Regions from separate parts of the Homo sapiens genome. Here region 2 is linked to region 1. The links come from fine-mapping of genetic effects on gene expression. A gene starts in region 1. The other region holds a variant in brackets. All regions are shown on one strand. Distances are from middle to middle. Region 1 holds the start of NCKAP1 (NCK associated protein 1). Region 2 holds the start of LOC124900540 (small nucleolar RNA SNORA77).

Evidence for each region. PIP is the estimated chance that this variant, and not a neighbour inherited with it, causes the effect. A credible set is the group of variants that fine-mapping cannot tell apart.
Region 2: its variant is the best candidate, but not a certain one, in a credible set for the expression of NCKAP1 in thyroid (GTEx, PIP 0.63).

What each region holds. Positions count from the first base shown.
Region 1 is chr2:183,029,550-183,047,011 of GRCh38, reverse strand. It overlaps NCKAP1 (NCK associated protein 1), which reads left to right and starts at 8,555. Exons shown (of 31, transcript NM_013436.5): 1 at 8,555-9,020. The coding sequence starts at 8,913. RefSeq lists silencers at 7,982-8,633, 8,366-8,955, 9,016-9,135.
Region 2 is chr2:183,054,524-183,067,869 of GRCh38, reverse strand. It overlaps LOC124900540 (small nucleolar RNA SNORA77), which reads left to right and starts at 3,524; the gene lies at 3,524-3,635. The variant A/G (reference allele first, on the strand shown) is at 9,048.

The sequences.
Region 1 (17,462 bases):
GTAAGACTTGTCCGATTTTTGGACAGGTAAAATGGGGGAATTGTAAGGAGAGTTTATAGGCTTTAAAAGACCATGCTGTAACAGGCGAGTGATAACGGGCTTTTAATCCTTTTAAAGCATGCTGTGGAATGGAATATTGGCATTGAGTGGGGGTAAGGGTGATTAGGTTTTAATGGGATGGTAAGGGGTGCATGATCGGTCACCAAGGAGGGAGTAGAGGTGTCCTATACTTGTGGATTAAGGTAGGGAGATGCAAGGGGAGGATGTGAAGGATGCTTTGAACTGGGGAAAAGGGTGGCAATGAGATGTAGCTGTAGCCTAGGAATAGTCAGGGAAGCAGATAATTTAGTTAAAATGTCTCAGCCTAATAAGGGAACTAGGCAGGTGGGGATAACTAAAAAGGAGTGCATAAAAGAATATTGTCCAAGTTGGCACCAGAGTTGGGGAGTTTTAAAAGGTTTAGAAGCCTGGCCATCAATACCCACAACAGTTATGGAGGCAAGGGAAACAGGCCCTTGAAAAGAAGGTAATGTGGAGTGGCTAGCCTCTGTATTGATTAAGAAGGGGACGGACTTAACCTCCACTGTAAGAGTTACCCAAAGTGTCTATGATGGTCCAGGAAGCTTCTGAGGCAATTGGGCAGCATCAGTCTTCAGACGCTAAGCTGATAAGATCTGGGAAGGAGTCACTCAGAGAGCCTTGGGCCAGAGTTCCAGGGGGTCTGGGAGTGGCTGCCAGGTAAGCTGAACAGTCCAATTTCCAGTGGAGTCCTGCACAGATGGGACGAGGCTTAGGAGGAATCCCAGGCTGTGGGCATTCCTTGGCCCAGTGGCCAGATTTCTGGCACTTGAAGCAAGATCCTGATGGAGAAGGTCCTGTAGGAATGCTTGACTTCTGCAAGTTAGGCATTTTGAAGTTCTTGTGTGCTGGAGATGTGGCTGGGGTTTCTCTCACAGTGGACATAAGGAATGGCAACTCAGAAATACATTGCTACTTGGCTGTTTCTACTCTATTATTGTACACCTTGAAGGCTAGGTTAATTAAGTCGTGTTGTGGCGTTTGAGGGCCGGAATCTAATTTTTGGAACTTTTTTTTTTTTTAATGTCAGGAGCTGACTGGGTGATAAAATGCATATTGAGAATAAGATAGCCTTCTGGGTCTAGGGCTGTAAAGCATCTCAGGGTTGCTGCCAAATGGGCCATGAACTGGGCTGGGTTTTTCATATTTGATGAAAAAGAGCCTAAACGCTAACTGATTTGGGAGAGCATTAACCTTGACTACGCCTTTAGCTCCAGCCACCTCTTTAAGAAGAAATCATTGGGCAGGTGGGGGAGGGCTAGTCGCGGAATGAAACTGTAAGCCGGACTGGGTGTGAGGAAGGGAAGTGAAAAAAGGATTATAGGGTGGGAGAGCAGAGGCTGAGGAAGAATTGGGACCTGGCCCAGCCTGGCAAGGAGCAGCCTGGGGAGGAGGGGAGAGGTCAGATGGGTCCATAAAAAAGGAAGATTGAAAAGACTCAGCAACACTTGGGGTTGGGACTGAGGGGACAGGTGGGAGGGAAAGAAGGAAGATTTGGGATGAGTTGCATTGGGAACAGAGACTAGGGAGGGACTGATGTGTAAAAGAATGCCTGGACATCAGGCATCTCAGACCATTTGCCCATTTTACGACAAGAATTATCTAGATCTTGTAGGATGGAAAAATCAAAAGTACTGTTTTCTGGCTATTTGGAACCATTGTCAAGTTTGTATTGGGGTTAAGTGGCATTGCAGAAGAAAATAAGGTGTTTAGGTTTTAGGTCAGGGGTGAGTTGAAGAGGTTTTAAGTTCTTGAGAACACAGGCTAAGGGAGAAGAAGGAGGAATGGAGGGTGGAAGATTGCCTGTAGTGAAGGAGGCAAGTCCAGAGAAAAGAGAGGGTAAAGACACAGAGAGAAGGGGTGGGGAGTGCTTGCCACCCAGGAAAGTGGAGAAGGGGTGGGGGGTGCTTGCCCCCCAGGAAAGTGGAGAGAAAAGAGAGGGTAGAGGCACGGAGAGAAGGGGTGGGGGGTGCTTGCCCCCCAAAAAGTGGTGCTTGCCACTAAGGGCGAAGGATCATGGTGGGCATCCTCATGGTGATCAGACACCTCTGAAACGTGGGTGAATAATCAAGCAGGCGTCCCCACAGTGATTAAACACCAAGGGAAGACTGTCTTCCCGAGTCTATGACCGGCACCGGAGTTTTGGGTTGACAGATAAAACGTGTCTTCTCCGTCTCTGCCAGAAAAGGAAAGGAACTGAAATTAAGAGAAGGGAGAGATTGAAGGATGGTGCCAAGATAGAAAGGAGAAAGAGGTTGAGGGATAGTGAGAGAGGTTGGAGAAGAGAGTAAAGAGTGGTGGCTTACCTGATTTAAAATTGGTGAGATGTTCCTTGGGCTGGTTGGTCTGAGGACCAGAGGTCATAGGTGGATCTTTCTCACGGAGCAAAGAGCAGGAGGACAGGGGATTGATCTCCCAAGGGAAGTCCCCTGATCCGAGTCATAGCACCAAATTTCATGCACATCCATGTGAAGAGACCACCAAACAGGCTTTGTGTGAGCCATAAAGCTTTTTAATCACCTAGGTGCAGGCGGGCTGAATCCGAAAAGAGAGTCAGTGAAGGGAAATAGGGGTGGGGCCGTTTTATAGGATTTGGGTAGGTAGCAGAAAATTACAGTCAAAGGGGATTTTCTCTGGATGGCAGGGGTGGGCGTCACAAGGTGCTCAGTGGGTGAGCTTTTGAGCCAGGATGAGCCAGGAGAAGGAATTTCACAAGGTAATGTCATCAGTTAAGGCAGGAATCTGCCATTTTCTTTTTTTTTTTTTTTTTTTTTGAGATGGAGTTTCGCTCTTGTTGCCCAGGCTGGAGTGCAATGGCACGATCTGGGCTCACTGCAACCTCCACCTCCTGGGTTCTAGCGATTCTCCTGCCTCAGCCTCCCGAGTAGCTGGTATTACAGGCATGCACCACCACGCCCAGCTAATTTTTGTATTTTTAGTAGAGACAGGGTTTCACCATGCTGGTCAGGCTGGTCTCAAACTCCCAACCTTAGATGATCCACCCGCCTCGGCCTCCCAAAGCGCTGGGATTACAGGTGTGAGCCACCACGCCCGGCCGAATCTGCCATTTTCACTTCTTTTGTGATTCTTCACTTGCTTCAGGCCATCTGGATGAATACGTGCAGGCTTGGGCTCACAGGCCTAACACCTCATAAGTCTTCCTTTTTCCTTTCCTTTCCTTTCTTTCTTTCTTTTTCTTTCTTTCTTTCTTTCTCTTTCTTTCTTTTCTTTCGTTTTTTTCTTTCTTTTCTTTCTCTTTCTTTCTTTTTCTTTCTTTCTTTGTTTCTTTCTTTCTATTACACACTATTTTCCTTTTTAAAAAAATACTCTCCAAAAAGTATCTCAATTTATTCCCATGGCTACAAATAATACCCAAATTCTGATAACTTCAAATTTGTATGCTAGGCCTCCCCTTGGAGGTCCAGTTCAATAGATTCAATATATTTTCAAATTTTTGAAAGAATATTCACCTCTGGAGTGAATATTCATCTCTGGAGTTTTTACATTTGATGTAAATGTAAAAATGTAAAAATGTAAATAGATTATTTTTGTTCAGCTGAAAGTTGGTATCATCAAAATGCTAACCCTGTATTCTAACTCATTTTGTTCTACCATTGATATTGCCTATTTTCCATGTAGCATTTTAACGTTAAAAAATTATAAACCTAAAATGATCAACCAATATTTGTATTCACTGATATATATTCCATCATATACTATTCATGCATAAGTCTAGCCTAATAAATATCTAAAACAAAAAAACAAAAAGCAAAAACAACAAAAAAGGAAAGCTAAATCTATAGTTTTATAGAGCAGGTGCAAATAAACATGTGTGAGTTATATTACCAAAGATTAGGCATACTATAAGATGAATCTAATTGGATGTGAGTGGTCAAGATCAAGGCTGTAATTAATTCTTTATTTTATTTCATTTTTTTAACTTTTCAGATCAGCTGTATTTCTGGCATCTCTTCTACTGATTACTGGAGATACCTCATGTGTCTTTATTCTGGTCTCAGTTACTCTTCTGCTCTACTGAGTTGCAATCTCTGGCTAAGTCTTAACTCCTTCCTTCATTTACTATGGATACTGTTGCCCTGTCTTTTCCTCACTGTTGCCCTGTCTTTTCCTCATTCTCTTTCTTAATAATTTTTTGGGGAATAAATGTTATACCTTGTGGTCTTTGCCAAGCAGAAGAACAGGACATGAATTACTGTTAAACCACAGGGAAATCTATTGTCCTTTTCCACTGTTGTTCACCCAGGGTTGGTTTCTCTGCATTATGGTCTCACCAAATGCAATTTTTTAGAATGGCACTTCCTTGAAAAGCTCTATTAATTTGTTATTCACTTATGTCTGACTCTTCCCACAGCTTGGGCCCTTTTTCTTTCTGCATTCAATTTTGTCAGAAGGTGGTGGCTTCCCAAAGGAAGGGTTGAAGGACAGACAAAATTACTATGTCTACTTCTCAATTCCCAGGCTATTTCAAAGAGAAATTTGTTCATACATTTCTAGTCATACTTAGTAATACCTGGTTAGAAGTTTAATGGGAGGAAAAACATTATATTTGTCTTTAAGATCAAGTGGAACACTGAAGTTTGATGGGAGGAAAAACATTATATTTGTCTTTAAGATCAAGTGGAACACTGCCTTTGATGGCAGACCTCCTAATCAAAGGGCTTTATCCTAAGAACCTATAGAGATACCCTTAATCAATTTTTCTCACTTCTTGCCTTATATAGAGAAGCAACACTGGGTTGGGTAAACTAAGTGATTTTAAAAAAAGAACGCATAAACATTCTTTATGATTAGCAAAAGATATTACAGAAATAATTCTCATGCTAGTTTCTGGAGAAAGCAAAGCTAAAGAAAGCCATCTAAAAAAGCTGATGTATCGGTCAGGAAAAAATATGGCAGACTCTTAACTGTGAATTGAAGAAAGTGAAGGAACTGTTTATAAAGGTTTGAGCAGGGTTATAGGACTCTAGAGGAAACTATAGAATCATGTTCACTGGATGCATGAAAAATGTAGTGCCATCCAACTGTCTTGTCACAGTAGTGCACCAACTTTGGAGTCAGACCGATAAGGGATCCAATATCAGCTTTACCATTTTCTATGGGTGTGATCTTTGGCAATTAAAAAAAAAAACTGTCTGCATTTCAGTTTTCTCATCTGTAAAATTAAAGATGATAATATCTCTAAAGGTTTTTGAAAGAAGTAAATGAGAAAATGTAGCTCAAATTGTAACAACATCTGACACAGTGCAAAAACCATAACTATTAAATCTAGTTATCCTCCCTTATTTTATTCCTATTAGAGATATTATAAAGTTGGCCACAGAAACTTATTATTGAGGATCACGTTTGAGGATTATTGAGAATCACGTTTGGCTGTAAGTAAATAAAAAAAAAAACAAATAAAAAAGCTAGAAGTTTATTTCTCTTTCGTACAAAACCAGGTCTAGACAGGCCAAGTTTGACATGGCTGTTGTGTTCTAAAAAGCCCACATACACCTTCCATTTTTATGTTTTGTCATCCTTACTGAGTGGCTGTTGTCTTCCTGGTTCAAGATAGTGGTCATTGCATCCTTGTTGGGTGTGGCAGAATGAAGGAAGTGAGGAAGAACTGGCAAATGGAGAGCAGCAGCAGTCCCTTTAGGAAGGTTCTTGACAGCTTATATCTTACTGGTCAGAACATAAGCTGCAAGGGAGGCTGGATGATGGATGTACTTTTCCTTTTTTTTTTTTTTTTTTTTTTTTGAGACAGAGTCTCACTCTGTCACCCAGGCTGGAGTGCAGTGGTGCAATCACGGGGCTCACTGCAACCTCCTCCTCCCGGGTTCAAGTGATTGTCCTGCTTCAGCCTCCCAAGTAGCTGGGATTACAGGCACGCATCACCATGCCCGGCTAATTTCTGTATTTTTAGTAGAGATGGGTTTCACCATGTTGACCAGGCTGGTCTCAAACTCCTGACCTCAAGTGAGCCATCCACCTTGGCTTCCCAAAGTGCTGGGATTACAGGAGTGAGCCAGCGTGCCTGGCCTCAATTTCTCTCTTTCTTTCTTTCATCTCTCCTTCCTTCCTTTCCTTCCTCTCTCCCTCCCTTCCTTCTTTCTTTCCTTTCTCCCCTCCCTTCCCCTCCTCCCTCTCCTCCTCCTTCCCTCCCTCCCTCCTTTGCTTGCTTGCTTCCTTCCTTCCTTCCTTCCTCTCTCTCTCTTTCTTTCTTTCTTTTTAAGACAGGGTCTTGCTCTGTCACTCAGACTGGAGTACAGGGGTGTGATCACAGCTCACTGCAGCCTCTGCCTTCCGGGCTCAAGTGATCCTCCCACCTCAACCTCCAGAGTAGTTGGGACCACAGGCACGCCACCACCCCCAGCTAATTTTTAAATTTTTGTAGATATGGGGGTCTCCCTATGTTGCCAAGGCTTGTCTTGAACTTCAGGACTCAAACAATCCTCTTGCCTTGGCCTCCCAAAGTGTGGGGGTTACAGGTGTGATGGAGCTTGAGCCTAGCAGTTGAAGACCAGCCTGGACAACATAGGGAGACCCTGTCTCTACAAAAAAGTTAAAAAGTTTAAGAAAAATTCCCGTACACTTGTTCTTTTTAATGCAAAATGTAGAGAAAGACAAAAATTGTAATTCATCTACATCTAATCTCTTTTACGCAAATATATACATTTCATTACAGTCTAGGGCCAGTATGTCTATGAATTAGTGACAATAAATATTGAATAATGAGACTACTATCTACAGCGTTCTCCTATTGGGTACTTCCTGAGTTATAAGCAGCTACTAGTATTCAAGTTTATATGGCAACATGATAGTTTTTCTTGGGGAGTAAGAGTTGTGTTCAAATTTATAATACAGTGCCATTTTCTTGTTCTCCCTATACAGCAGTTTTTAAAAACTAGAAAATGAGACAATCTTTTATTGGTAGCACTCTGTAATTCTGCGTCTAGACTTAGTTATTTGTAGTCTCCCTAAAGGAGCACATATTTCCCCAATGTTCAACATTTTTAAATTTTCTTATCTGGCTACCCCAAACCCCTCCTCGCAGCCTCCCCTTCTCAGGTCTGCCCTTACTATTCCAGGCCCCACAACCTTGCCTCCTCTAAATTAAAATGTTAACTATCAGGCTGAGAAGTAACCAGATAAATTAAATTCCTTGACCAGTTAATGACTAGTAATAGCTCGACAGATGATCTCTCTGAAGTGTTTGTATTCTTAAGACTCTCTAGGTACAAAGCATTCATTCAAGGTACTGCAGCTTTGTATATAGAATTTCAGGCACACTGGCAGGTATGATTATGACTTCTTTTGGTGGGAACAGGACTCTTTTAAATGCCCCTTAGATTAAATCCATTCAGTCCACTCCTTCTTTCTTGTTGGAATATTAAAATGAAGATTTCTTTACGAATAGTAGATATAGTAGCTTTAAAAAATATTTTAAAGCTATTCATTACAATTTCCTTTTCTTAAAGAGTTTTGATAAATCCAGTGATGGCTTATTACTCTTAGAATGTCTTATTGAATGTGGCGGGACATTTTGTTACTGACTTAAAATTAATGAATATAATATAAAAAATTAACATATCGAGAAAAGGCAAAGCCAAAAATATTAGAGGCCTGAGTCCTCTTGGCTGAAGTTTCTCACCTCAATTACGTAAGTCCTCAGTTAGTTCACTTTTGGAATCATGTCTAATACATTTGACAAGGGAGTAGCCTTGGAGTGTCGCTAAGAAGAAATTGATCAGGAAAAATGAGATGGCAAAGAAGAATGTTTCCAAGAAGAAGTGGGATTTAGGGTGGAGGCTGTAAAAAAATGGGAGCGGTTCCTTTAGGCATTGAACAAACATTTATTTTTTGCCTTCCACATGCCAGGACCTACTGCGTCTCCTCCGGATGGGTGCTCCTCGCCGACAAAGTCTAGATTGTGATTATCTCAAGGACTTGAGTTACCCTCACTTCCGACCTCCTCTCTCACAAACTGGTTCCAGGCGGGGAGACTGAGGATGGGCTGGGGAGGCTGGCAGAGGCGATCCCCACCTCGCGGAGCACAACATCTGCTGTGTTCTGCGGCGAGCGCCTGTCAAGCAGTGGGAGGAAAAAGCGCTTGGAGCCACCAGCCCACTCTTAAGCGAAACTCGCCTGGAAAACACCCCGCCTCCCAGCAGAGTTTCTGCCGGTTTCTTTAGAAGGGTGGTGCGGAAAAGCAACTTTTGGGAACTTGAAGGAGTGGGGTGTGGGGCGAAGTGGAAAGAGCACACAACGCGACCCCACTCAGTCCCCGCTTGGGACTCCCATCCCGGCATCAGGCGTAGTGGGCGGTCCGGGCCAGGGCCAGGGCCAGAGCGGCGGCGGCGAGGCCATGCCGAGGGCCCGTCGGCCGCAGTTCCCCGTCCGGCCTCGCGGGGGCGCCGGCGCTGCCGATCAGGTGACCGAGGGCCCGTCCGGGGCTGCGGGAAGCGGCCTCGTTCTCAGCCGCCGGAGACGCCGCCGCCGCCGCCGCCGCCGCCACACCTAGTGGAGCAGCCGGGGAAGGCGGCTCGTTGGGGGCTGGGGCGGAGAGCGCCGGGGGTGGGGGCGGAAGGGCGGCGGGCGGAAGGCAGGAGGCTGCCGGGGCGCGGGCTGCTGCGGGAGAAGGGGCTCCGAGGAGTCCGCCGCGGCTCGCTCTGTCGCCGGCGCGGGATTGGGGCGCGAGGGCCATGGGCGCGCTCTCCTAAGGCGGAGGTCGCGGGCGGGAGGGGAGGAGGCCCGAGAGAGGCTGCTGCGAAGGCCGCGGGCCCGTGACTGGGCGCGAGGCGGCCGGCGGCGGCGGCGGCACCAGCACCACCATGTCGCGCTCAGTGCTGCAGCCCAGTCAGCAGAAGCTGGCGGAGAAGCTCACCATCCTCAACGACCGGGGCGTCGGCATGCTCACCCGCCTCTACAACATCAAGAAGGTGCGCACGGGCCGGGGAGGCCGCGGCGGAGGCGGGCGGGCCCGGGAGGGATGAAGGGCAAGGGAGGCCGTGGGGTGGGGGCGGCAGGAGGCGCCGGGTGTAGAAATCTCGGCGTCGCCGCCCGAGGCCCGGCCCGGGGTCGCCTGGATGCGCCGCGGCCTAATGCGGAGTCCCGGGCGCCTCTCCCTGTGGTTCGCCGGCCGGCCGAAGGCAGAGAAGCCATTTCCCGGCTCCCGGCGGCGGGATCGGGCGCTGGGCCTCGCACGGGGTGGGGGCGCCGCTGGGAGCCGGGAGCTGTCCCCTCCTCGGCGCCCCCGCCCCCATGATGGGGCCCATAGGAAAGGGAGGGTGGTGGGTGGGCGAAATTCTAGGTGGGTAGGAAAACTTGAGTGTTCCATATTCTTACGGAGATGGCAGCAGTGAACAGGGATTACACCCCACATCCCCATTTTTTGGTGTGGGAATGTGGGTAGAGAAGGGCTGATTGGATGAATCCCGTATCCCCTCCACTTTGCCACTTTATTTTAGATTGCTAAATAAAAAGCCATTGAGAGTGTGTTGACGATTTGGGATTATTTCATTTTGAAGGTGGAGAGGAGGGGGAAGTGAGGGTGGAACCAATTTTCTGAAATACTTCTAGGCTGTGAGTCACTAGAACTGGAATAACAACCTTCTACTCTTTCCCCTGTACTCCTCCTCATGTTAGATTTTCCAATACCATTTCTTAAAGTTCGGTGTCTGTACAAAATAAAAACCGTAAAAATGTTGCAATTGCTGCTGATTTATAGCATAGTCTGATAATTTGAGCAACTATAGCTAATAGGCCCATTTAAAGGCTTTTACATGTCCTCAGTACAGTAAGGAGTGGAAGACCACTGGAAGTTTAGAAAAGTCCATGTAAAGATAGAACAAATAATTACATTCATTATCGTAGGACAAAACAACAAAATCTCTCCCCTTAAGGCAAGGTTGGTAAGTTTTAAACAATTTGATAAAGAGAAAAAGAGATATTTGGAAAATTTAGATCCATCGAGTTTCCAATGTGTCTTTGATGTCATACCTTCATAACTATTTGTTGGCTTTTTAATATATCGTGAATGTTACCGTTTAGTTTAATCATAGCAATAGATTGTAGGTTGAGAGGGCTTCTGAAGAAAGGTTTTTTTTTTTTTCTTTGGAAATTCATTTCCAAGCGTTTGAGTGTAAAATTGATTTATTTTTTACAATTTGATGTAGACACTAATTCTAAAGAGTGTCCTGGTTTAATGATGATAAATTTTGGATAAGGACAAAGTCTGGTTGCTCACCTAATTGCAAGGCTTTATTACTCTAAACCCAGTGCTATCTGGAGAGTAACTGCAACATGCTTACTCAGTTTGTTACCTTTTATGTGGCAGGAGCTCAGTGTCATGACAAAGAAGCCCCTCTGCATTTACCAAGGAGCCTAGGTTATAAATTTATATAGGTTAGGAATAATTCAGTTTTAAATAGTATTACTTAGAGGTTGCATTGACCTGAACTGTTCGGGGAGATTGTGCTGCTTAAAAAACTTGGAAATTGATTCCTATATGAATTTTGTCCAAAAATGAACAAGTCAAATATTATAAAAGTTACTAGACCTGTGGTATTGTGGTTTAAAGGAAATGGTTATGATGGTTTCTAAAAGAGGAAGTGAGAGTAACATCAAAAGTGATTTGGGTATTTGGGCAAAATACCTTTTCTAAGCATTTATTAAACATTTTTGTAGGATAAATGCAATCAAACTTTAATATCCCACCTTCATAAATAAGATTAAATGAAATTCTGGGCATTTGAACTCTAATAATTCCAGTTCATTGCCTTTTCTCAAAAGCACTGTTTTTTTCACTTCCTGTTTTGGGAAGCTTCAGCCTCTTGTATTATTGAACTTGTGAAAGTTAAAATGCATTGAATGTGATCATTATTATATCCATGTCAAATATTTTGATTTATTGAAACGTCATATTTTAGCACTTGCCTTATATTTTTAGTTTCTTAAGAAATACATTGCTTACCTTGCTTGAGTGTGAATTTTCTCTGGGCAGGGACAGTGTAATTTTTGAAATACTAGAGTATTTAGGGCCTTATCTGATACTCGAGGCCTTCAGTTAGGCCAGGTTGAAATGAATGAATTACTTCCCTCCTCTCTCTCAAAACCTGTGTGCTCTAGTTTTAATAATAATACCCTTGGGTTTGCTCCCTTTGTGTAATTTTGCATGTAAATGAATCAGATAAGATTTTGGATCTTTCAGCCTATAGAATTGTCTGTGAGTCTGGCATATCTTCCCAGCTGGCTAGGAATTGAAACATTTGTTCAAATATCTTGCCAAAGAAGTGAGTAAGATCTGTTCACCATGTGTTTATTAGGTTCATGCTGTCTGCATTCTTACTGCATTATAAACCACATACTCTTTTCAATCTCAACCTCTTCTAGTCTTAAAAAAAAAACCTTCCACCTCATAATACATGTTTGCCAATCAATTATCACATTTTCATTAATGCATGTGCATTAGATTGTCTACCAGATCTAATTACTCTGTTTCAATTGGAAGTATACAGTGGAAATGATATTTTAGTGAACATATACAATGAAAAATAGTTAAGTAAAATAACTTATTATTGTCAGTAATATGCTTTGGCGCTTATTAGGGAAGTTGGAGCATGATTACTGAAGAATGTTTTTTTTTTTTAATTTCATCAGTCAAAAATTTTGAGATCTTAATATTTACAATTTATGGGAATTTTAGGGAACTTGTAGTTTGACGGAGGATGTAGGAACACATAAAAGCGGATTTTAGGGAAAAGACTTGAAGGTTGTTGGTAGCTTTACATTTAAATTTATTTGTTGCTTAATTCCTTTTTTTTTGTTTTTAAATATATGGTTTCCCTTTTGCAGACCTAATAATGTGACTCACTCATGTAGAGATTTGTAACATTTTTAAAGGTTCCAGCATGGCAACTTGTGTGGTGGTGGGATTAAGAGCACTGGGCCAGAAGTTAAGAGACTTGCATTCCAATCTTCATTCTGTCACTGAGAGTTCTCTAACATTGGTTAGTAATTTGACTTTCTTGAGCTTCACTTTTCCTCATCTGTAAAATGGGGAAAATTAACTGTAAAAGGAACACTAAAGTCTATTCCAGCTCTATCTTTATGATTTTATGGTGAAGTAGTAGAGTAGAAATTATGTTTCATTTTAAACAATAACTGAACTCAGTTTAGTTTTCTGTAATGTAGGGAGCATAATGCCTGCCCTACATACTTCACAGAATTGCTTCTGAAGGTAGAGGATGGTAATATGTGAAAATAGTATTTAGGAATCTGAGCATCTCTTTTGGGCAACATTGTTTTTCTGAAATTGTATAACTGTTCAACAAAACTGCCAAATACCCAAAGAAAACATTTTGCTCAGTTAAATTTTTGTGTGTGTGGTTTACTCTCTTCTTTTTTTCCTTCTCCTTTCTTTTCCTCCACCATTACCAACATGAGATTAATCTCTGTATTAAAAAGATCTTAGTTAATACTTGCGTCTTTTCCTCCTGTTAAATTTCTGCCTGTACTGTAAAGGTCAGAGAATGAGAAAAAAAAAAAAACCCATACAACTATTACAAACTTTTTAAAGTGGAGTATTGTGGTGGTTTAAATGCAGTTTTACTTCTTTAAAAACATTAGAGGAATATTTTTCTTTTTTTCCCTATCCTTTTCTCATTATTTTGGATAAATTTATTTTCTAAGGAAAAGTTTAACAGGACTAGCATTGTAAAATTGAAAGTCTTTAGCCAGTATCTGCTTATTTAGTGGGGGAAGAAAAGATGTTTGTGAAGGGAGCAGTGCAGGGTAAAGGGAGGGGAACTGGTTTTAGTCTTCCCTTTCAGTATTGTATTTGTTTCCACTTAGGGTGTTATTTTCTCTTTTGGTCAATCAGATGCAGAAGCGTGTTCCAGAGATGCTTAGGAAAATAATTATTTTTAATTTTTAAGTAGCAATGATAAATAATCCATCTTTTGTTTCCTTTATGGAATTGTTAAGTAACTTTAAAATTTTTTAATGATTACCAGAGGAATATATGTTTATTGTCAAAAACTCAAACATAACATAAATGAGTGACTTCAAAAATTCACTGTCTGCCCATCTTTATAACTTTATAAGCTACTGAATTGTTAGTTTGTAAGTAGGGTTGTATATGTGCCAGTTTGAAATGATTCTCTTGTTTTAAGTAGAAGAACCCATACTGGAAAATGCTTTGTTATTGCATAGTTGACTATTTTAGATAGTAATAAAATTGCATCTTTAAAACTGTTTTATAAGCCATCATATGAGCTATTCTTTCAGTTACTCTCAAATATTGAGGTTTTCCCTTTTAATTTATTCATTTACTCTTCGTTTATTGAATGTGTTCCCTGGCATGAGGGAAATAGAGGTAAATTAAGATGAAGTCTCTAGTGCCAAGAAATTAGTGTCTTAGTGGGGAGAGAGATGTATAGATATTTAACTAAAATGCAGTGTGTAAGTAGGATTGTCGGAGTCTTGAGAAGGGAATTAAGGATTATAATCTGGGAGAGATGGTAAAGAGGAGAGTCACATTTGTACTTGGTTTTGAAGTATGAATAGAAACTTCAGGCAGCCAGTGACAGAAACTAACTAGTTACTATTTCAGATTGCAGAGTTTTTATTCAGTAGGATATACAGAGGGTCCCCAACTTGTGATGGTTTGACTTAACAATTTGTTGACTTCTTGTTGGCACAAAAGCTATGGCATGCAGTAGGAAGTGGTATGATACTTTCTTGTGATCTGATACTCTGCAGTGTACTGTATTACCAGATAATTTACTCAACTGTAGTCTAATGTAAGTGTTTAAGGTAGGCTAGGCTAAACTATGATGTTAGGTAGGTTAGGTGTGTTAAATGCATTTCTTCTCTTTTTTTGGAGACAGGGTCTAGCTCTGTCATACAAGCTGGAGTACAATGGCACGATCTCAGCTCACTGCAGCCTCTGCCTCCTGGCTCAGGCGATCCTCCCACCTCAGCCTTCTGAGTAGCTGGGACTATAGGCACATGCCACCATGCCAGGCTAATTTTTGTATTTTTTTTGATAGAGTTGGGGTTTCACCGTGTTGCCCAGGCTGGTCTCTGTCTCCTGGGGTCGAGCAATCCACTCGCTTCAGCCTGCCAAAGTACTGGGATTACAGGTGTAAGCTACCGCACCTGGCTGATTTATGATATTTTCAATTAAAGATAGGTTTATTGGAATGTAACCCTATTGTTAAGTTGAGGAGCATCTGTATAAAGATAACAAAATACAGTCATTCTGCATAATGATATTTCACATAACACTGAAATGATGGACTGCCTATACACAGTAGTCCCATAAGATAACACTGTATTCTTACTGTTTTTTTTTATGTTTAGATACATTTAGATACAAAAATACATACCATTATGTTGCAATTGCCTGCAGTATTCTCATTGTACGGGTTTGTAGCATGAAAGCAGTAGGCTATATCCCATGTACCCTGGGTGTATAGTAGGCTATACCATCTAGGTTTATGTAAGTACGCTCTGATGTTCACACAATGATGAAATCATCTGATGACATTAAGCAATGCATGACTGTGTTAGAGTATAAAATAGTAATGCTCTTCTTGCAGGCATATAACCTCTAAACTTCACTTATTTTCTAAACATTTTCCGTACTTGCAGAATATTCTGTGAGTTGAGAGAGCTAGATTCTAGATAATGCTCTGATACTTTTTTTTTAGTTTGAACAAGTTATTTAACATTTCTGGGCTGTAGGTTACTTACAAAGTGAGGAGATCAGTGGTTCCTAGCCAGGGATACATAATAGAATCCTCTTGGAAGGTTTTTCCAAATTCCATACATCTGGATCCTGACCCAAACTTAACTTGAACAGAAAAAAATCCCTGAAATTGTTCCAATGTTAACTACTGAAATAACTGAAATGTAAATTCTTAAATACCTGTAATTTCTTTTCCTGCTAATTATTAACTGTGGTGATTTAATTTAGTTGTCTGGGTTATAACTAAATTTCTGGAAGGCTGCACATTGGCTGTCTACTAGCAAAACCAGCTCCATGGTACTTATTTGCTCTCAGCTTCTGTTATGCTTCAAGCTGTATTTTTTGGCTTTCTAAGCCTTGCTAGTCTTATTGATTCTAACTCTTGTAATCTTAAATAGATATTCCAGTTATCTCACGTTTTTGGAATACGCTTTTATTAACCTCATAGGTTAAGAGGAGAATTAAATGAGTGAATCCATAGGAAGTATTGGTACAGTGCCTTGTAGCAAGCGTAAGAGCTGAGGAAATGGTGGCTGTTGTTACTAGTTCTATTTCTGGGGCTTGGAACATAGTGGACACTTAATAAATGTTCATTCCCCCCCACCCCCAGATTAAATTAAGCTCAAGACTACCTTTTAGGAAACATTCCTCACTATTCTATTTTACTGCCTGATACAGTTTGACATCTACTTACTGCTAAGACAGAATAATTATTTGTATTTCAGAAGTATGTGTTCCACAGTAGTCCTTTAAATAACAATTTCTTTTTAACCGCAAAGGTATGACAATATATATACTTTAAAAAACTGCAAAAACACCTTTGCTTCATAAACTGAGATGATCCTGTATATTGGAAGCTGAAAACTGTTTAAAGGCAACAGTGACATATATATCTTCTTGTAAATGGAATGGTAATTAATAACTCATTTGAATCACTAAATTTTTTTCTTTTTTTTGAATCACTAATTTTGAAGTGTATAATGGGTTGAAGTTTTTCAAGTTCATGACTTTCTCAGAACTTGTGTCTAAAGGACAATAACTGTGATTTCTATATTTTTAGATCTCAATTATTGGCTCCAATTAAGAGGTAGTTATTGATAAAATTACATTAATTTGAAAGCATTTCCAATAATTTCAGTATACTTTGTTATCAAGCCTCTTAATCCAAGTTACTAGCAGTAGATTGCTCTCTTTTCTTTTTACCTACCTAAGAGGGAAAGTGCTAACTTAAAGCAGATCGGTTGGCCAAAATATACATCATAACACAGGAGGAAAAAAATAATCGGAAAGCTAACTACTGATGAATTTGAGTCTTATTTTGCTCTTGATATAAAGTTTTCCAGTACTTATGGACAATTTTCATACTGTAATATTTTCATTATTTAAAAAATTGGAACATAAAATAATCATAGGTATATATTACTTTTACATTCCATAATTTCAGGTAACGTCTATTCTTCCTCTAGGTATTAATTTCAATTTGTTGAAAACTCAGGGAAGAATCTTTGTCCCTTTATTCCTTCAATTTTGCAAAACGTGTGGTGTTTCTTGGTTATTAAGTCAAATTCCTCTTTCGAGTCTAAATTGGCCACATTTTGTATTTTTCTCCTCATCCTTGACATTATTCAGATGGGGCTGGTTTCTGTGCCCTCACGAATAGCATTCTCACTCTGACTCCTGAGATCTTGTTCATATTTTTTCAGTTAATTCATTGTACTAGAAAATCATTTTGTTCTTCCCTATTTTGGCATTTTTCCAATTATTGTACTAGAAAATAATTGTTCTTCCATATTTTAGCAAAGGAATGTGTTTTATTCCTGAGTTAGAATAGAAATTAAAAAATAAAACTGAAGCTAGGCACAGTAGTAGTGCGTGCTTGTAATCCCAGGTACTTAGGAGGCTGAGGCAGAAGGATCTCTTGAGACCAGGAGTTCAAGTCCAGCCTGGGCAATATAGCAAGATGCTGTCTCAAAAAAATAAAATGGATTGAACTGATCAGATTTTTACCGTGATAGCAACTGCTTCCTGAGGTTTTAAGCAGCGGAGGTTTTGAATAAGTGGAGCATGTTTTTAAACATTATTTTTGGGAGGGGACATATATTTTTAGATAGTGTTTTGGAATCAGGTATGAATTTCTCTGTAGGTCCTGTCAGTAGTTGTGAAATCTTGATCAAGTTACTTAATTTTTCAGAAGCTCCTTTCCTTTCTGTTGAGTGATAATTTAGATAATTTCTAAAGCATAGGTGTTTTGCACACAATAATTGCACAGTAAATGTTCTTTTTACTTCCAACATCTTTTGTATCTTGATTATTTTGTTGTTTTTTTTCCTTCTCTCTCTTTTTTTTTTTTTTTTTTTCGAGTCAGGGTCTCACTCTTGCCTAGGCTGGAGTTTGCAGTGGTTGTGAACAGGGCTCACTGTAGACTCAACCTCCCTGGCTCAAGCAGTCCTTCCATCTTAGCCTCCCAGGTAGCTGGGACCACAGATATTTACCACCACGTTTGGCTAATTTTTAAACATTTTGTAGAGACAGGGTCTCCCTCTTGCCCAAGGTGGTCTCAAACTTGTGGGCTCCAGCAATTCTCCTGCCTTGGCCTCCGCAAGTGCTGGGATTGCAGGTGTGAGCTACT
Region 2 (13,346 bases), 23 kb before region 1:
GAATCATGTTGAAGCCCATAAGAATGATGACCTATAAAGTACTTTTAAAAAACACAATTTTTGGCCAGGCACAGTGGCTCAAGCCTGTAATCCCAGCACTTTGGGAGGCCGAGGCGGGTGGATCACGAGGTCAGGAGATCAAGACCATCCTGGCTAACATGGTGAAACCCTGTCTCTACTAAAAATATAAAAAATTAGCCAGGCATGGTGGTGCGTGCCTGTAGTCCCAGCTACCTGGGTGGCTGAGGCAGGAGAATAGCGTGAACCCAGGAGGCAGAGCTTGCAGTGAGCCGAGATTGTGCCCCTGCACTCCAGCCTGGGCGACCGAGCAAGATTCCGTCTCAAAAAACAAACAAAAAAAAATACAATTTTAAAAATTTTTTGTAAAGACAAGATCTTACAGTGTTTCCCCTTGCTAGTCTCTAACTCCTAGCCTCAAGTGATCCTCCTGCCTCAGCCTCCCAAAATGCTGGGATTACAGGCCTGAGTCACCAGGCCCAAACAAAAGCCAATTTTTAATAAAATAAATGAGAACTTATTTTAAAAAATTTATTTGGGGATTAAAGAAAAAGGCTCATCAAAAATGACTTGACAATTTCTAGCTAGGGAAATCTGGACACTAGTGTTATAAGGACTATGAGCTGTGTTTCTCTAGGGTGCTGAGGAGCCCAACTTATCTATTTAGTGCTTGCCACATTGTAAGCCTTCAATAAATATTTCATGGATGGATGAATAAGTGAGTGATAAAGCCAGGATATCTGAGTTGAGTTGAGGTCATTCACATAAAGATGATGGTTGAATGAGAAGATATGAACTTCTCAAAGGAGCCAGTTTCCAGAAAGCCCAGGAAAGGACGATGGTTTAGGGAACAAAATTTGGAGTCTTGAAAACAAATGAAACATGAAAAAAAAACAGATAAAGAGAAGTTATAGAAACCAGTGAAAGCCTGGACCATGTATTCAAAGGTAAATAGAATTTCAAAAAAAAGAAAAAGTTATTCCATGTTGTAGAAAGTTACAGAGAAGTCAGAATACAGAGAATGAAGACAAGTTAAATTGACATGATACAATGAGATCAGCTGATCATTTTTCATAGAACAGCTTCAATAGGGTGGTAGAAGAGCTGCCAAATTAAAGAGCTTGAAAAGATACGATGGCATATAACTAGAGGCAGCTGGAGGTTGTGTCTGGAAACTGCTAGAGTGTCCATGACAGAAAATTCATTTCCAGAGTGTCATTTTCAGATAATGTTGACCTCCCTACCTTCTTCTAGAAATCTATCCTCCTTCTTTAAAATGCTATTTTTAATAATACTTATTTATATAAAACATATATGACTTTTTAATTTAAAATAATGAAAAGCTGGGAAGAAATATGATCAAATTACTTTAAAGAATCAGGAATAATATGGATAATGTGAACGAAGTTAATAAAATCCTAGGATATTAAAAATAATAGGGAACATGTTTTGAAGTTTAAAAGAAGTACTTTTATGTCAACTAAAAGGATATGGTGGGTAATGAAGTTATTGAATGCATTGTCTTATGTACTGGTAGAGACAGCAACAGAATAGTATCCAACAAGCTGAGAAGATGTTTGGATTATACATCAACTAAGGAAAGCATCCCTATTTCTGGATTTGTAATTGATGAATTAGAAAGCTATAGCACTGTCCCTCAAAATTTATTGTAGTGTCAGTATTATTTAGAATAATCAACTGGTCCAATACAATATGACATGTCTCTTTTTTAATCTTGAATCCTTTCTTTTTCAATTGAGTCAGGAGTCCCCTGTAACTTTTTTCTTGGAAATGTTCCTAAAAACCTGTATATTTTCCTGGAGCTATTTATGTAGATATTTTATAAGGATGAATAGTTAAATGCTAGAAGCACTAGAGCTATACATAAAGGTGAAACGCTAACTCTTTTCAAACAATGGTTATTTAAAGACATATTAATTAACCTGGATGAGGCTATGTAGAGTGAAAAGATGTTTTTTCTGATTTCTGAGGGGTCTCTCATTCTACATTAAAAATCTTTTACTTCCTGAGACAGATTTAAAAGATTAAGATTTTAAAACTTTATATGTATTTTTAAAGGCGTGGATCTAATTATTAATACATTGATAAATAATATTTCATTTGAGAATAAGCCATATTAGATGGACAAATTTGGGGGAAAAACTTCACAAGTTATTCAGTACTGAAATTCTAGAAGGCAGTGTGATAAGAGTACTAAAATGAAAGCAAATCAAGGTTATATAATCAGCTTTTTTGCTGACCTACGTTTTGTATTTTGTTGATTTTATCTCTAAAACTACATGATGCCTAAGTTTGAAAATGGCAGCAAATACTGAGAAATCATATGTGACTTTTTTTTTTTTTGAGGCAGAGTCTCACTCTGTCACCCAGGCTGGAGTGCAGTTGTGCATCTCTGCTCACTGCAACCTCCGCCTCCCGAGTTCAAGCGATTCTCCCGTCTCAGTCTCCTGAGCTCCTGAGTAGCTGGGATTACAGGCGCGTGACACCACCCCGGGCTAATTTTTGTATTTTTAGTAGAGACAGGGCAGGGTTTCATCATGTTGGCCATTATGGTCTCGAACTCCCAGCCTCAAGTGATCTGCCCACCTCGGCCTCCCAGAGCTCTGGGATTACAGGTGTGAGCCAACCCACTTCGCCCATACATGGCTATTTTTAATGAAAAGATTGTGAAAGATGATTAGTTTTTTTATAGTTGTACTTTTTGTGTACTCTTTAGCTATTATAGGTTGTTTGTTTACTAATCAGATGTGTTAAAATCACTGTCTTAAAAAAGCAGAAAACATGTATTTTGTTTATTTTATGTATATTTCTTGTGATTCTATAAAACAAGTCAAAGTACATGGCTTACTTTAAAGATGTGTTTAAATACATATGCAGTAATTAGTCTTGAAAAAATTAACTCTGGTGCATGAGAAAAGATTTCTTTTCACACAAGAAAAGAAATAGATGAATGATGGCATGTAGCTTCAAAGCTAAATGTGGCTAAATCATTGGTGTATTTAATCACTTGCATGATGGAGAAAGCATTATTATTATTACTATTATTATTATAGTTATTATTGTTTACACTACTGAATTCAGTACCCTGCGTTGCACCCTATACACAATGAAGCCTTTGAAGTTTCCAAGGAAAATAGAAAAAACTCCAAATTGTGGAGGAAAAAAGATTTCTTATTGACTAGTTCAATTATTCAAAAGAATTGTTATTATGATGTTTTGCATTTGATTTAAAACGATGGGGGAAGGAGGGTTGTAAACCAAACAGAATAAGCCATATGTTGATAAGTATTGAAGCTGGGTGACGGATACCTGGGAGAGGGCTTAATTTTACTATCCTTTCATTTTTTGTTTGAAAATTTGAAAACATCCATTATAAAATGTAAAGAAAAAGGTAAAAATATTAAAGCAAATTAACTTTATCAGAATATATGCCTTTGTGATCTCGGCAAGTGATCACTGAAATGTTAAAACCTTTATTTTCTTTGCAGACTCCCTCAGCATCCAGCGGGTGCTTTTTCGGTCTGCCAGTGAGCATTCCATGGTGCTGTGACCATTTTGACCTCTCTAGGGTGATGCAGCTGCCTGGGGACACAGAGGGTAAAAAATTCCTGAAGAAAAAGAAAAGTCCAAGTGGAAAAAGGAAACAAGGCCAGGCGCAGTGGTTCATGCCTGTAATCCCAGCACTTTGGGAGGCCGAGGCGGGTGGATCATGAGGTCAGGTGATTGAGACCATCCTGGTGGCTAACAGGGTGAAACCCCGTAAAAATACAAAAAATTAGCGGGGCATGGTGGGGAGCACCTGTAGTCCCAGCTACTTGGGAGGCTGAGGCAGGAGAATCATTTGAACCCGGGAAGCGGGGAGGTTGCAGTGAGCCAAGATCGCGCCACTGCACTCCAGCCTGGGAGACAGAGTGAGACTCTGCCTCAAAAAAAAAAAAAAAAAAAAAAAAAAAAAGGGAAACAAAAGAAAGAAGGAAGGAAGGAGGGAAGGAAGGGGAAGGGAAGGAAGGAAGGAAGGAAGGAAGGAAGAAAAAGAAAGAAAGAAAGAAAGAAAGAAAGAAAGAAAGAAAGAAAGAGGGAAAGAAAGAAAGAAAAAAAGAGAAAGTACTTAATTAGCCAGAGAGGGAGAGAGAAACTAGGTAAATACCTATGCCCAATATTGAGTGCTTTGGGAAAAATAACTCAAGAACTTTTTGTAATATTTTCTGAGTTTGTTTTTTACTTTTTTTGTATTTCTACTTTAAGAAGCAGTGATGTCTAAGAAACATGCTCTCATTTATTTTACTTGTTAAGTATGTTGTTACTCTTTAAACTTGATTCAGACTACTTTATGGTGTTTTTAAAAAGTGGTTTTTATATCATCATACAATATTACATTTTAAAATGTCTAAGATGTGCAGGCCCTTCCACCACCAAATGTCAGCACTACATGGAATTTTATTATTATTTTACAAAAAGAGGAACAACATAACTTTATTGTGCATGTGTTCACGAGCTCTTGTGCATCTGTGTGTAATAATATAGCTATTTATGTCTTAGCATGGATGACTCTAACTTGCAAGCTGTAGAGTCACACAACGTGTGCTCATCTCCATGGTAACCATTTCTAAGATAAATGCACTTCTGAACAATGGTCCCAAAATAGCCTATTACCCATTTTTGTAGATTTCCACTGTGGCAGCAAAAAACAATTTTGTAAAACCTTGATCCATTCTTTAACCAACAAAAATAGAGACAACAAACACATATCCAGATCTGCAGAGAAAATATTGTTAAGTGTAATGACATTTTCTACAACAAACTCAGGATTTCGTGGATCTGATTTTTATTTTATGAATTATCTATACTTAATGTCTCTCCTGCAACTTTTTGACTTCCTACATTTAGCTATTTATCTGTTCTGAGATTTCTTTTCTTTTTTTTCTTTTTTTCTGAGACAGGGTCTCACTGTCACCCAGGCTGGAGTGCAGTGGCAAGATCATAGCTCATAGCAACCTTGAATTCCCAGGCTCAAGGGATTCTCCTGCCTCAGCCTCCTAAATAACTGGGACTATAGGTGCACACGACTGTGCCTGGCAAATTTCTTTTTTTTTTTTAATTTTTAGAGATGGGGGTGTTACTATGTTGCCCAGTCTGGTCTCCAACTCCTGGGCTTATGATCCTTTTATCTTGGCCTCCCAAAGCATTGAGATTATAGGTGTGAGCCACCTTGTCAGGCCTGAGATTTCTTATCTGTAAAATGAAGGGGAAGAAATTATCTCCAAGGACTTTTTTAGGTCTAAACTTATGATTTTATGATTTCTCCACTCAAACCATTATGAGAAGGGAAGCAGGGGAAATAAAAACAACTGAAACTTAAGTTAGGCAATCTTTGCCCCTTGTTAGGTTAAATAAAAGAGACTTTTAAAACTATTTACCGGGCCGGGCATGGTGGCTCACGCCTGTAATCCCAGCACTTTGGGAGGCCGAGGTCGGTGGATCGACTGAGGCCAGGAGTTCGAGACCAGCCTGGCCAACATGGTGAAAATCCCCCGTCTCTACTAAAAATACAGAATTAGTTGTGTGTGGTGGCACATGCCTGTAATCCTAGCTACTCAGGAGGCTGAGGCAGGAGAATCGCTTAAACCCGGGAGGCAGACGTGGCAGTGAACCGAGATCGCTCCATTGCACTCCAGCCCGGGTGAAAAGAGTGGGACTTCATCTCAAAAAAAAAAAAAAAAAAAAAAAAAAAAAAAAAAAAAAAAAAAACAAATAAAACTATTTACCATCACAACTGGATTGCATTCCCATAAATTCCAAATAATTTAGTCTTTTTTTCCTATTAAAGTTGACAGCATTTTCTTAAAGTTTAGAATATCTTAATTTTCCCAGTGAGAATAGATTGAAAAGTGTTCTCACAATGGGGAAAACCACTTTCTGTAATTTTAAAGATGCTCATCCTTCACATACCCCTCCACATTGGCTCTGCTGGGGTTTTGATGTCAGACTCCTCTAAGAAAGCAGGAAAGCCTTTGTGAACCTCAAATGAACAGGGGCAGAATAGATGTCAATGAAGAGAATGGTAAAAAGCAGAGCTGATTCTACCCAGCCCTCTTCAGCTCCTGGGAAATGGAAAGCTGACTACTTGGGTTTGGTAGCTCTACCACTCCCCCTAACACTGCAACTCCCAGTGCCATTAAATTATCTATGTTCCAAGATTTAGAGGGATAGGGAGAAGATAGGCCCTTTTTTTAAAAAATTTTATTTTATTATTATTATTATTATTATTATTATTAATTATTTTGAGACGGAGTCTTGCTCTGTCTCCAGGCTGGAGTGCAGTGGCGCTATCTCAGCTCACTGCAATCTCTGCCTCCCAGGTTCAAGTGATTCCCCTGCCTCAGCCTCCTGAGTAGCTGGGACTACAGGTGTGCACCACCACACCCGGCTAATGTGTTGTATTATTAGTAAAGACAGGGTTTCACCATGTTGGCCAGGATGGTCTTGATCTCCTGACCTCATAATCTGCCCACCTCAGCCTCCCAAAGCACTGGGATTACAGGCGTGAGCCACCACGCCCAGCCCCTTTATTTTTATAAGGGTAAACCTTTTTTCAGAGCAGGCTTTGGCAGAATTGTGACACCATCTTTTTCCTTTGAAAGCAATCCTTATTGACCGCCCAACTCTGAGCACATTTCTTTGAAATGGTTTCCTGCCTTTGGAGTGCCACATCTTCTCTCACAGCATTCCTGAATGCTGATAAGTTCTCTCCTTCTGCTCTCTTCAGGGAAGGAGAATGTTATGCCTGTCCGTGTAAGAGACCACCTGAGCAGGCTTAGTGTGAGCAACAAGGCTGTTTATTCACTTGGGTGTAAGTGGGCTGAGTTTGAGAAAGGAATCAGCGAAGGGTGGTGGGATTATCGTTGATTCTTATAGGTTTGGGATAGGCGGTGGAGTCAGGAGCAATTATTTGCGGGCGGGGGATGGATGTTACAAAGTACATTCTCAAGGGCGGTGAGTGTGTATTGTCACAAGCGTGGGGAAGAATGTTACAAAGTACATTCACAAGGTTGGGGAATATCACAAAGTACATTATCACAAGGGCGGGGGAATGTCACGATGGCTCGACCATGGTGCGACCAGCTCAGAGGACCTTACAGAGAACTTCCTCCTTCTCTTATCAGGGCATAGGGAACTTCTTACAGCACATTCTGGCCAGACCAAGACTATCGCTGTTATTCTTTTCCCAACCCCAGACCCCACCAGACCCACCCCTAAACAGACTAACTCCTCTTACACCTTCCTCCTCAATACAAGGCTGCCTACTGACCTAATCCGTGCTAACAAAGGGAAAGGGGGGTCTGGAGCATTTGCATCTACCTTTTGGACGTAAGTATATTTAAAAAGCCACCCTCTGCAGTCAGTGCCACTACATTTTTTGGCTAAAGCAAAGAATGTTGGGGACTTTAAAACAGTAGAGCAGCACCATAGAATGCCTATGAATGGGATGGTTTAGGCAATGGGCTCTTCAGTGCATGGTTTCCATCAAAGTGCCACAGAAGATGTAAAACAGCTCAAGTGCAACTTTATTTTGGTTCCCATAAATTAGTCTGGATTTTGTACCTCAAATGTCCAACCCAATCAGTCATTGTCCACAGGCCAAGTGGGACTTGAGATCACTATGCCTGTCTTGTCCTGATCCCTTGTCAGACCAAGAACGGATATACCTCTCAGAAGGCCCATTTGTCTGAATTACATAATCTTTTTGGTTATGACCCTAGAACACTTTAAAGAGGCAGATATACATTACTAAGACCTGCCTACCTACATTTTCTTTCATTGGCATATAATTCCTACGAAATTTCTTGGTGTAGGTTTACTATATAACTCCTGTAACTCTTTCCTACTATGAGAATTTAGATTGTGTCTGATCTATGTTATTATTAAAAGCATTTCTGTAATCCCTGGGTGAGTATTACTGTTGACAAGACAGGTAGCACAAGTCCTGGTAGCTTCATGCCTGCCAGTTCTTAAAGAAGAGCAAATTACTTAGAAGAAAAACAAAGTGATTCATTCAGTAAGTGGTTGATTTTTCTCTCTTTCCACATGGTGACTCAGCAAAATGAAAGCATTGGGTACATTCTTACTTCTCGAAGAAACCAGGATTTAGGAAGCACTACTCATATAATTATGATATCACATGCTGTTAGCTTAAGTTCAGTTTGATAGACATGTTTTACCCCTTGGTTTGGCTATTGCCAAGAGTGTCACTTTGATATTTGTTCTTACCATCTCTTCTTTTTAAAATGTTGATAAAAATTACCATTAAGAAATGTGAAAATGTCTAGCTTTCAACACCTGTAGTCCCAACTATTTGGGAGACTGAGGAGGGAGGACTGCTTCTGGCTAGGAATTCAAGGCTACAGTGAGCCTGTGAATAGCTGGTGTATTCCAGACTGGGCAACATAGCAAGGCCCTGTCTTTAAAAAAAAAAAAAAAAAAAAAAATTGGCCGGGCGTGGTGGCTCACGCCTGTAATCTCAGCACTTTGGGAGACCGAGGCAGGCAGATCACAAGGTCAGGAGTTCGAGACCAGCCTGACCAACATGGTGAAACCACATCTTTACTAAAAATACAAAAATTAGCTGGGCATGGTGGCGTGCACCTGTAATCCCAGCTGCTCAGGAGGCTGAGGCAGGGAAATCGCTTTAACCCGGGAGGCGGAGGTTGCAGTGAGCCGAGATCTCACCACTGCACTCTAGCCACTGCACTCCAACCAGGGCGACAGAGCAAGACTTCGTATCAAAAAACAAAAAAAAAATTGTGCTGGGAGTGGTGCTGTGCGTTTGTAGTCCCAGCTACTCTGGAAGCTGAGGCACTAGCATCTCTTGAACCTGGCAAGTGGAGGTTGCAGTGAGCTGAGATCACACCACTGCACCCCAATTTGGAGGACAGAGCGAGATTCTGTCTCAAAACAAAAAAAAAAGAAAACAAAAAGAGTTTCTATTATATTATTTTTTATTCTAATGT[A/G]TTATTTTAGCATAAATAAGAGTTCTGGTTTAGATTACGGACAAAACCTTTACATTCAGGTTTGGAAAAATGTCATTAAGTGTCAAAGCTGGGTGATCATTACATGGGAAGTTAATATACTCCTCTATTTACTCTTTTCATGTTTGAAATTCTCTGTAATAAAAATGTTTTTTTTGTTTGTTTGTGTTTTTGACTGCAAGTTCTGCCTCCCGGGTTCACGCCATTCTCCTGCCTCAGCCTCCCGAGTAGCTGGGACTACAGGCACCTGCCACCACGCCCGGCTAATTTTTTGTATTTTTAGTAGAGACGAGATTTCACATAAAACGTTTTTTAAAAGCCCAGATGCAATGGCTCATGCCTGCAATCTCAGCACTTTGGGAGGCCGAGGTGGGCAGCTCACCTGAGGTCAGGAGTTTGAGACCAGCCTGGCCATCTCAAACCCGCCCCTATTAAAAATACAAAAATTAGCCAGGCAGGGTGGTGCAGGTGCCTGTAGTCCCAGCTAGTTGGGAAGCTGCAGCAGGAGAATTGTTCGAAACCAGGAGGTGGAGGTTGCAGTGAGCACAGATCGTGCCACTGCACTCCAGCCTGGGAGACAGAGGCAGCCTCCGTCTCAAAACAAAACAAAACAAATCAAAATTAAAAAAAAAAAAAACCCTTCCCACTAAAGGTAGGAATACCTCTTGAAATGAAAAGGACATAAGAGAAAAAGAAACAATTTCACATGAATTAAGCTAATCTGTCTCCCATGAAGAGAAGGAAAAAAATTCCTTATTTCTAGTACAGTGTTTGATTATATTTTCACATGACCTCATTCCACAAAAAATCTGAGGCAGTTTAACTAACTCTGATAATTGTAGTCAAGTCCATTGCTTTGTGTCAAGCTGATATTTAACATTAAATAATGATGGTGGTGGTGGTGGTGGTGATATTTACCTTATATTAACTTTTTTCTCACAAAAACAAAAGCAGTATGAAACAGATGCCAGTTGTACATCCGTGGAATGGGAGTTTGCCAGCTAGCACTGAAATCAAGAGAAGAGGTATTTTGCCAACGAGAGAATATTGTCAACACTCAAAGACATTAATGTCTAGGTATTTGAACGCTGAACCAATACCAAATATTTTTAGAACCTGTTGCTTCTTTCATTTTTGTGACCCTTTCACATATCTTATGCTTCTTCTTCATGTTAAGTTTTACTTCTTAGGAACAGGGTATGGTATGAATAGGGTGTAGCAGCAACAGATTTCCAAATGTGCTATTTTACACAGAGCAGTCTTGAAAGCTGAAAAGCTGGCTGGGCCTACATTAGCAGCCAGTTTCTGAGACTAAATTTACAATATTTCTGCAATCATTCTGAGGCAGACTAACTATGGCTTATGTAATGTGCAGAAGCCACAGGATTTCTTTAAAACACTGTACATTTCATTAAGGAAACATCCAACCCTTTATTACTTATAACAATAAGAAAAAGGGATATGTAGACAAATGATAACTTGCAGACCATTAAAAGACTTTTTGGTAATCAGCAGTTTCCATTTCTTCTTTTATACAAAACTGTTTAGTTAAGGTGTTCAAATGAAAGCAAAACAAAACAATTTGAGTCTCATGTTTTCAGTTCTCCTTCCCACCCTCTGTTGGAGGTGCCAAAGGTCTTGGCAGCCAGAGGGAGGCAGATAAAGAGAGAACTTGAGTAAATGATCTACAGTGGAATATTTAGTCCTGATAAAATGTTGATAACAGAGGCTACCCTATTACTGTCATGGAAAGATTGCCATAGGGTAATGCATTGAACTCATTAGGAAAGAGGCTCTTTTACAGATCCAGATGACATTCTAAAAAGCTTTAGGTTTTTTTGTTTGTTTGTTTTGAGATGGAGTCTCACTCTGTCTCCCTGGGTGGAGTGCAGTGGCGTGATCTCTGCTCCCTGCAACCTCCACCTCCCAGGTTCAAGCAATCCTCATGTCTCAGCCTCCTGAGTAGCTGGATTACTGGTGCCCGCTACCATGCCCAGCTAATTTTTGTATTTTTAGTAGAGACATGGTTTTACCATGTTGGCCAGGCTGGTCTCAAACTCCTGACCTCGGGTGATCCACCCGCCTCAGCCTCCCAAAGTGCTGGCATTACAGGCATGAGCCACCGCCCCCGGCATAGAAAGTTTTCTTTTTAACATTTATGCCAGGTTAAACCCGGATGCTTAGCACATGATTACCAGGGTATACAATCGCTCCTGTTATGCCATTTTTGATAGACTCATTACAATGCATAGTGGTTTCAAATCTAGGGTCTCTGGAGCTTTATATGGTCTTAACGAAACCATAAACTATTTAAAATTGTACTACAATATTTGTATATATTTTATGGATAGGATGACCAGCTTCAGCAGGGGGATCCATTACTCAAAGCTAATTAGAGGCCAGGTGCAGTGGCTCACGCCTGTAATCCCAGCACTTTGGGAGGCCGAGGCAGGTGGATCACGAGGTCAAGAGATCTCGAGACCATCCTGGCCAACATGGTGAAACCCTGTCTCTACTAAAAATACAAAAAATTAGCTGCGAGTGGTGGCACATGCCTATAGTCCCAGCTACTTGGGAGGCTGAGGCAGGGGAATTGTTTGAACCCGGGAGATGGAGATTGCAGTGAGCTGAGATCGCGCCACTGCCCTCCAGCTTGGTGACAGAGCAAGACTCTGTCAAAAAAAAAAAAAAAAAAAAAAAAAAGCTAATTAGAAACCTTGTAACCAAAAATTAATTTGGCCAACACCAGCATAAAGAAAAAATGATTTCAGCTTTGTTTTTATTTCTTCTTTGACTCCATGGGGAAAATGAATAAAGATGAGTGGCTCACTTCATTCCTTTATTCTGATTCAATTCACAGGCTTTAAGTCTTTCACTGTCTTTTAAAACAGGAGGGTGCTCTAAGCTAATTCTGTTATTTCCAGAATTGCACATCCAAAGTTCTCTTCTGATGTTTGGAAGTCCCATAGTCTGTAATGTAGTAGCAGGTGCATTTTTAGCCAATGTATTATATAACAGAACTACTAGCACTTTTGGCTAATATATTAGATAACATATTTTTATTTAAATCAACTTACAAATGTTTTCTGCTCAAGTAAAACAATTCTATAATTAAAATGTGACATAAGAAAGTATACATACATATGTAATGCTAAAGTTTGCTTTAATGTGTTCCTAATATTTTACATGTAGAATCAACTATATAAATAAATTGGACACTAATTAGGAAATGTGGGTTTCCTCTCTTCACAAACTAAAAGTAAATTGTTCATCCTTTCATTTCAAATATAGCACAAATGAAGACCATTGGGAATATAAGAAATGTAAAAAGTAGTTGTAGAAAATGTGAATAAACTCTGATTCTAAAGGTTTGTGCAAAGAGTAATGAGTTGAAGCAATTAAAAATAATCTATGAAATGGTAAAACTTTAATGTGCAAACAATCCAGGTGGGGCAGTGTATGTTCACAGTTTTAAAGAAAAACATGATTTTATAGTAGCAGCTTAGTTTGTATGACTGTACTTAAGTAACACTGGCTTTTTTTTTTTTTTTTTTTCAGACAGGGTCTCACTTTGTCACCTAGGGTGAAGTGCAGTGGTGCGATCTCAGCTCACTGCAGTCCCTACCTCCCAGGCTGAAGCTATTCTCCCACCTCAGCCTCCCAGGTAGCTGGGACCATGGGCACATGCCACCACGCCCAGCTAATTTTTTCTTTTGTATTTTTAATAGAGACAATCTTTCACCATGTTGCCCAGGATGGTCTCAAACTCCTGAGCTCAGGCAATCTGCCCAACTCGACCTCCCAAAGTGCTGGCATTACAGGTGTGAGCCACTGTACCTGGTCAGAATTTAAATTTTTTAAATTATTGTTATTATTCTTTTGTAGAGAGGGGATCTTGTTATGTTGCCCAAGCTGGTCTCGAACCCCTGGCCTCATGTGATCCTTCTGCCTCTGCCTCACAAAGAGTTGGGATTGCAGGTGTGAGCCACTGCACTTGGCCTGGATTTTAATTTAAGTGGGACTACAAAGTTGAATTTAAACATCAGTGAACAACTGACTTATTGTAAACATTTAGATTTCAGCAATGTCTTACTGGGGAAAATAATCTTATAATGAGTTTATAATACTTTAACATAGTATATATTTTTATAATAAGAAAAAAAATGTCCTTAACATTTGCACATAATCAAGGCTTAGAAGTATAACGATTATGGTGTGTACTTAATGTGAAATGGTGAAAACGTCATTTTTGGAAGTTATTACTTTGAAATAGGAGTTTGT